Linked DNA regions of Homo sapiens: region 2 is linked to region 1. The links come from fine-mapping of genetic effects on gene expression. A gene starts in region 1. The other region holds a variant in brackets. All regions are shown on one strand. Distances are from middle to middle. Region 1 holds the start of IL18R1 (interleukin 18 receptor 1). Region 2 overlaps IL1R1 (interleukin 1 receptor type 1).

Evidence for each region. PIP is the estimated chance that this variant, and not a neighbour inherited with it, causes the effect. A credible set is the group of variants that fine-mapping cannot tell apart.
Region 2: its variant is the best candidate, but not a certain one, in a credible set for the expression of IL18R1 in thyroid (GTEx, PIP 0.76).

What each region holds. Positions count from the first base shown.
Region 1 is chr2:102,354,183-102,358,182 of GRCh38, reverse strand. It overlaps IL18R1 (interleukin 18 receptor 1), which reads right to left and starts at 2,387. Exons shown (of 11, transcript NM_003855.5): 1 at 1,783-2,387. RefSeq lists silencers at 2,333-2,392, 2,413-2,522 and an enhancer at 2,117-2,618.
Region 2 is chr2:102,173,510-102,177,509 of GRCh38, reverse strand. IL1R1 (interleukin 1 receptor type 1) reads right to left here. Exons shown (of 12, transcript NM_000877.4): 10 at 2,780-2,923; 11 at 1,865-2,032; 12 at 1-1,157. The coding sequence ends at 751. The region is part of intron 2 of IL1R1-AS1 (IL1R1 antisense RNA 1); the gene reads left to right. Among named protein-coding and RNA genes, the nearest start is that of IL1R1-AS1, 6.6 kb to the left of the region's middle. The variant A/GAA (reference allele first, on the strand shown) is at 2,417.

The DNA.
Region 1 (4,000 bases):
ATGAGGAACCTGAGATTTGAGGAAGTGAAATGGCCAGCCTCAGATTACAGCTATTCACAAGGACACACATGAATCAATGTAGATGCCTCAATATAAATCACTCATTAGCAACACATACAATCGAGCAACTCCTGAGACAAAATGCCTGGATGAAAATCATAACACCAGTTTTTTTTTAATATAATTTTTCTTCTACAGTGTTCCATGCATAGTCGTTTTACTCAGCCTGTGAGATGATAAAACAACCAAATGCAAAGAGGAGAAAATGATCTTGGGGCATAACATACACACACACACACACGCTTAAACTCTAACAAACAAAATAATTTGTGTGGAATCTGGCTTCTCATCTGTAAGGCCAAGAAAATCAATGCCACCTCATAGTCCTTGTCACACAAGTGTCTGTTGTTAGCCTTATGCTTCCCCCCAAATCTGCCTATGCCTGTGCTACCTGGGCCACCCTCCCCACTTATCCCAGATGCCAGGTCCCTAGAGTCCTTTCAACTTGGCTCAGTATTTGCCTTCTCAAGGAAGCTCTCCAACTGCAACAGCCCCAAATGGCACATGCCTATGTCCAAGCCCGTCTCCATCACTCTGCAGGTGTTTCCATCACTCCTGGACTAGCTCCCACTCTCTGGTGAGGTCCCTGAAGGCAGGGACCCTGCCTTTTCTTTTTTTTCTTTTTTTTTTTTGAGATAGAGTCTCACTCTGTCGCCCAGGCTGGAGTGCAGTGGCACAATCTCTGCTCACTGCAACCTCTGCCTCCCAGGTTCAAGGGATTCTCCTGCCTCAGCCTCCCGAGTAGCTGGGATTACAGATGCATGCCACCATGCCTGGCTAATTTTCTGTATTTTTAGTAGAGACGGGGTTTCACCATGTTAGCCAGGATGGTCTCGATCTCCTGACCTCATGATCCGCCCACCTCAGCCTCCCAAGTGCTGGGATTTAGACCCTGCCTTTTCAATCCACATTCCTAGGCCTTAGCCTTAGTTCTCAGCCTTTGGATGTATATTTGTGCAGGGAGAGGGAAAACACTGTCCCCAGAACCTGCACAAACCCAATTCCCCAAATTTACCCCTCCTAGCCCATCCAAGGCCCTGAGGTTGAGAGGTGTGCTCCCAATAGCAGCACTGTGTATGACACAAAATCAGTATTTGCAAAGGGTCTTGAGAATGAAGCAAGGGAAGTCAGTGAAATGAATACAATAATCTTGGATCTCTGTATCTGGCTGCAATTGACACCTCATTAATTTGTCTGATAACTGCGATGCAAGGTGCTGGGCATTTTAACTTCCCAAGGCTGGGCAGAAAAAAGACAAAGGCTCTGGAATCAGAAAAACTGTAGGTGTGGATCTGGGATCTACTACTTAGTAGCTGGATACTCTTGGGTAAATGACGGAATTCCTCCTCCCTTTTATTAAAGCATAATAATAGTTCCTATTTCATGTGGCCCTTAGGAGGATTAAGTGAAAATAAGATATCTAAAAATTTTCTACAGTGTCAGGCACACAGTAAGCACTTAAAAAATGACAACTATTGTTATCATTTATTTCAGTCGTTCTCACCTCTCCAGAAAATAATTGGGGATGTCTTAATTTCTAAAACTATACTTTCAGAGAAAGACAGGATGCTGTCTCATCAATTATTCACACGTATTCACACACACACTATCTCTCTCTCTCTCTTAATTGATCTTGTTTTGAGAATCCCTCCCCGGATGGTGGTCTTCCCTTCCTCTGGGGGGTGGGGAGGGGATGCGGGTGGCAGCGGAGCCCACCCTTACCTTCAGAGAGGCGTCCCCGAGGCTGGGGCGGGGGCGGCAGCTCCTCCTTCACGCCAGGTCGCGACTGCGGAGGCCAAGTTCAGAAAGTAGGTGAGAAGCAGCGATCTCCGCCTCCTGACTACCGTGGAAAGTGAAAGAGAGGTGTGATTAAAGAGATAAGGCACCCAGAGAGGGCTACAAAAAAAAAAAAAAAGAAGAAGAAGGAAAAAAAGTAGGAACAGAAAGAAGAATGTCAGGCGTCTGGCAGCTCCTGGCTGCTAACCCCGGCCGGTGGAGGCTGCAGGTGGGCACTGCCCGCGGTCGGGCGAAGCTCCGGGTCCGGGAGTGTAGCGGTCTGGGGCGCTCTCAGTCTGGGGCGCTCCCTGGCGTAGAATCCTCCCTGACTCGGAGGTCCCGGTCTGGGGACCCTCCGGTCCGGGTGCTCCTCGCAGCCGTGCTCCAGGACCGGCTCCTCCACCCAGACGCCCCGCGTGGAGTTACCGGAGCTACTGGATCGCGGGGTCCAAAGGTTGCTGCTGGAAAACCCAGCGCCTTGCCCTTTTCCCGCGGACGGCGTGGGCCCCAGGCGTCTGGCGCTTCCTGCCCAGCCGCGCGGCGCGGGTCCCGGGAAAACCCGGGCTGTAGCCGGGTGACCTGCGGGGCCGGAAGGGGGCGCGCCCGGGCCGCTCGCAAGCACCCTGCAGGCCGCGGTTCACAGCAGAGGATGCCAGGAGGGAGGACCGCTGGCCGCAGCGGCCGCCCGGCTCTTCAGAGGAAGAGGAGGGGAGGGCTGAGGGTGGAAGAGGGGTCCCCGGGGGATGCCGAAGGTGAGAGGGGCTCCGCGTCTCAAGTACACAAATGCGCCCCAGGCTTTTTGCTTTCCCAGAAGGATGGGAGTTCACTATAGGGAAGTAATAGAGAGGGGTGCAATTGTTGAAGTTTTAATTTTTTTTAAGGAGGCCAAAGGGGAATGTGTGTTTCTAGATTTTTATTTTGTGGCAGAACTGTTATTTAACCAAAGGAAAAGGGAAACCCATAGCCGACAGGCAAAATGTTCAATTGGACAATGATTTTAATTCTTTTTACCCAATTTAGATAATTCACCACATAATAAATAAAAATATGTAATTATCTCAATAAATGCAAATAAAAGCATCTGGCAAAATTCAACACCCTTTCTGAATTAATAACGATCAGAAAACCGAGAGTAGAAATGATCTTTCTTAATCTGATAAAGAACATCTATAAGAAACCTACAGGTGACCTCATAATAGTGAAACATTTTACTTTTTCCTAAGATTAGTAATGAGATAAGGATTTTGGCTCCCACCTGGGACAACTGCTTTGCAACAAGTGAAGAAATAAAAATAAAATTAGAAAGCATAAAGATTGAGAAGAAAGAATTAAAACTACTGGTTTTAACAGAGAGCATAATTATATGTAGACCAACTTTTGAAATCTACAAAAAAAAAAACTACTGGAAATATTAAGTTTATCAAGATCATGGAATATAAAAATCAATAGCAATTCTATATATTAGAGATGGAAACTTGAAAAGTGAAGTTTGTTAAAAATGCCATTTACCATAGCATTTAAAAATCAAAATACCAAAGTATAAATTCATTGGATAATATATGAGATATCTCCTGTGAAAACTACAAAATATTGCTAACAGAGATGAAACATCTAAGTAATAAAGGGATATACCACGTTTACGGATTGGAAGACTTAAGACATCTATTCTCCACACTGTATATTTTTAGACTCTATATATTACAGAATCTATATATTTAATACAATTCAATCCAAATCCCAGGAAAATTTTTCAAAGAAATTAAGAAGCTGTTTCTAAAATTCATATGAAAATGCAAATAATCTAGGATTGTCCGGACAGAGACGGAGTTTTGCTCTTCTTGCCCAGGCTGGAGTGAGTGCAATGACGCGATCTCGGCTCACTGCAACCTCCGCCTCCCGGGTTCAAGCGATTCTCCTGCCTCAGCCGCCCGAGTAGCTGGGATTACAGGCATGCACTATCACGCCTGGCTACTTTTGTATTTTTAGTAGAGACAGGGTTTCTCCGTGTTGGTCAGGCTGGTTTTGAACTCTCGACCTCAGGTGATCCACCCATTTCAGCCTCCCAAAGTGTTGAAATTACAGGGGTGAGCCACCTGCCCGGCCTGTCTGGGCAATCTTGACAAAGATGAACAAAGTTGAGAGACTTATACTGACTTGAGGATTT
Region 2 (4,000 bases), 180 kb after region 1:
TCCCTTCCTCAGTGAGGTGTCAGTCTCACTTTGCCTGCAGCACCTCTCAGGAGAGCCGCTCCAGGGTCAGTGACTCTACAGGGTCCCCAGACAAGGCATAGCCCCGCCCTTGGGCTGTGGATGACTTAACTAAGCCATCTGTAGACGGTGGCTATTTCCTTCTTGCCCTTTCTTCTAGTTCGCTGTCTCCATGCCTTTTCTTGGCAGTTCAAACATTCAGAGAGGGCATTTATTGCCCTTTTTTTGAGACGGAGTCTTGCTCTGTTGCCAGGCTAGAGTGCAGTGGCCCAAACTCGGCTCACTGCAACCTCCGTCTCCCCGGTTCAAGCAATTCTCCTGCCTCAGCCTCAGGTGTAGCTGGGATTACAGGCGTGTGCCACCATGCCTAGCTCATTTTTGTATTTTTAGTAGAGATGGGGTTTTGCCATGTTGGCTGGGCTGGTCTCGAACTCCTGACCTCTGGTGATCCACCCACTTCAGCCTCCCAAAGTGCTGGGATTATAGGCGTGAGCCACCACACCGGGCCTACTGCCTTTTTAAAAGATCTTCCCAAGCCCTCTACTCTGAAGTGCCCTGGGCTGCTATTGACGTCATGGCTTATTCCCTTAATAATCTGATTCCAGGTGACCTCAGGGATAAAGGATGATATAGTTACATTCCATGAACTCTGCAAGTCAGCATGAGGCATAACCTGGCCTGCAACGCCATAAGACAGGAGGCACCTAAAGAACTCTTGGCAACTTCTCCATGCTACCCGAGAGGCACGTGAGCCTCTCTTTGCAGTTTCTCCTTAGTGGCTGGTGACAGTAACTGGTGTTTAGATGAAGGTGACCGTCGCTGGACTGGCATGTGGTACCTGACATTCTTCCAGAACCTTGTCTTTGCAGACTGTGGTCCCTGTGTAAAGTCCCCTGACCAGCGGATAGCCCCATGTTTCTGCTTAATGAATTTAATCGATTCTGGCATTTTCTCATAGTCTTGGATTTTCTCCAGCTCAAGCAGGACAACTTTAATTCCATCCTGAACAAGAGCATTATACATGGCTATTTGCTCTTCAGATGAACCACCCAGCCAGCTGAAGCCTGATGTTTCTCTGACTAAAATGATAATCAGTCTTCTGCTTTTCTTTACGTTTTCATTAATGACCTCAACAATGTCTGAAAAACAGGAAGCACAATATAGTAAGTAAAATTCTATTTATCATCATTCTCTCCTGAACCAAAGCCACACAAGGCTTTTCACAACCGTATGGCTCCTAATGCCTTTTTCTTGTCTTACTTAAAATTAAAGGAGTTTCCCATGTTTTTAATTAATTAATTTTAAGAGACAGTCTCTTGTTCTGTTGCTCACACTGGAGCGCAGTGGCGTGATCTTGGATCACTGCAGCCTCAAACTCCTAGGCTCAAGTGACCCTCTCACCCTGGCCTCCCAGGGTTGTACTGAGATAAAAGGCATGAGCCACTGCAAACCTCCCATTTTATAGACTAACTCAAAAATTGGCCCTCAAAAGACAAATATTTCATTTAGAACTCAGAAAACTTTGTTGGAATTTTAAAAACTTATTATTCAATCATTTGATCTCTACCACTCCTGTTTAATTGTATCAGTTGTAAAGCAACTGTTGGGTTTAACTAGTCATTAAGTTTTTCAAAACTAAATGAAAATCACTTAATTATTGCTCTGACAAAATATGAGAGAAGTAAATGCATTTAATAAATGTAAAAATCATCATACACTTCTGAAGAGGTTCTTAAAATTGTGAAACATATACCCCTATGCCACGATCTTCTAGAAAGATGGAATCCACATTTTACTAAGTAGTTTTACAACAATAAGCCTTTACTCTGTTCCATTACACACATACCTTCCCCAACGTAGTCATCCCTTCCATAAATGAACAGCTTATATCCACACTGTTTTTCCAAGACCTCAGGCAAGACTTTAAACACAAAAATATCACAGTCAGAGGTAGACCCTTCCCCAACAGTCTTTGGATACAGTATATATGCGTCATAGGTCTTTCCATCTGAAGCTAAAGGAAAAACATAATGTATTTAGAACCACAAGGCAAAAATAAGAGATTTGATAAAGTCAGTATCACAAACATTCATTACATAATGAACTATTCATCTTTTTTTATACAATGGCATGACTGAAGCAGCAATACCAAAAATATAATCCCTTTAAAAAGTGTTCATCTCTTACAAGGTTTCTATTTCTTGTGTTTTACTGCAAATTTGTTCTTCTATTTGGAGGCTGCCTCGTATACTCTTAGTATAGAGCCATCCTTAAAGTCTCCCTGTCCTCATCTTCTTCCCCAGAGGTCTCAGCCCTGAATTCTATCCATTCATTTTTTTTTAGATATTGTGGTATTCCTTTTTTTTTTTTCGCAAAGTTTAAACAAAGGAGAGAGAGA[A/GAA]CCTCCCTGATGCATGAAGATCTAGTCATTTCATTTCTTTCATTAAGGTATGATCTCTGTCTGTCCTATTCATCACAGAGCAAGGCCTACCAATGGCTTGTGCATAACTGAATTTATAAACAGATGCTCTAAATACCTGTTTATTCTACCAATATGAATGTTGAGGCAGGAACTTAGAAAACAATGATATTCAGCCTAATGAGTTCTAAAACTATAATTCTGTGTAAGAATAACTAGTATTCTTGTATATGCCACTTTTCATTTTAGAAACCCTCTTAGTAAAAACCCTCTTAGTCATCTTCTACATCTCCTAACTATCCCTTATCTCCAACAAGAAATACTGCATGGAATACAAAATTATACCTTTTATTGGGAGAAAATCATAGCAGGAATCCCTGTACCAAAGCACAATGTCAATCTTGAAGATTTTATAGATGAAAACAGAACACACAATTATGACTGTCAACGTGACACATATACCAATCATGTGCTTCTGGAAATTAGTGACTATAGCAAAAAGAAAAAAAAAGGAGAAAAAATATTAGAACCAAAAAGAATTAAAACTTTGAGCACAGCAAATTAAATATCTTCGTCTCAGAGAGCCCATATCTGGGAATGGCCTGCATTCAGACAATATTAACTCATTCATTATTATCACTTTGTAATGGATACTAATGTACAAAGCAATGATAAAACTAAGGTGCATTCTATGAAGTTTCTACCTAAATAGCATAATATACAATAACATGGGAAATAATACCGAAGACCACAGGATAGAGCATTCCACAGTAAAACAGGGAAAAGTTAAAATCACTCAAAAGCCTACAAAAGTTCCCTGAGGTCAGAGAGTCCATTGGGTAAAGTTAAAGACTGGTGGAAAGCGAATAAGGTGGAGGCTTAGGGAAGTTTCACATTTCCACATTCTCCTGGCCTCCTTCTCTACTTAGTTATCCAATAATTAAAGAGGAAGCTGGGGAGCAGATGGAGTAGGTGATGGGGAGGGGGCTAGAGAAGAAGAAAGAGGGAAGAAAAAGAAAGTACCCTCTAAATATCAGGAACCATGTAAAAGCATCCAGAAAAGGGAATCTAAAAGCTTTATTTACTTTTCCAATTTAAATGATTTGGATATAAAACAGAAATCAAGTTATACCATTTTCCAGACAAATATCCAGCTGGCCCAAATGATAGTTCACACTTACGGTCTTAAGTACTGTCGCTTCATACAAGATCATGATGTCTGTAGTAATAATCCTCCAGATTTATTTTTCTTATTTAAGACCACCATGACTATACTTGGTCCTTTACAGTTCCCTATGACTTTTACAGGTGTCCACAAAAACACACCCATACAAACACTGACTCTCACTTGTACAAATACTGCTGAGATTTTGATTGAAATTTTTTGGAATCCATAGATTCATTTGGGGAAGAACTGATATCTTCATAATATCGAGTCTTTCAATCTATGAACATTGTATATCCTTCCATTTAGTTCTTCTCTAATTTATCTCAATATTTTTTAGTTTGTATTACAGAGGTTTTGAACAGCTTTTGCTAGATTTATTCTTAAGTATTTGATGATTT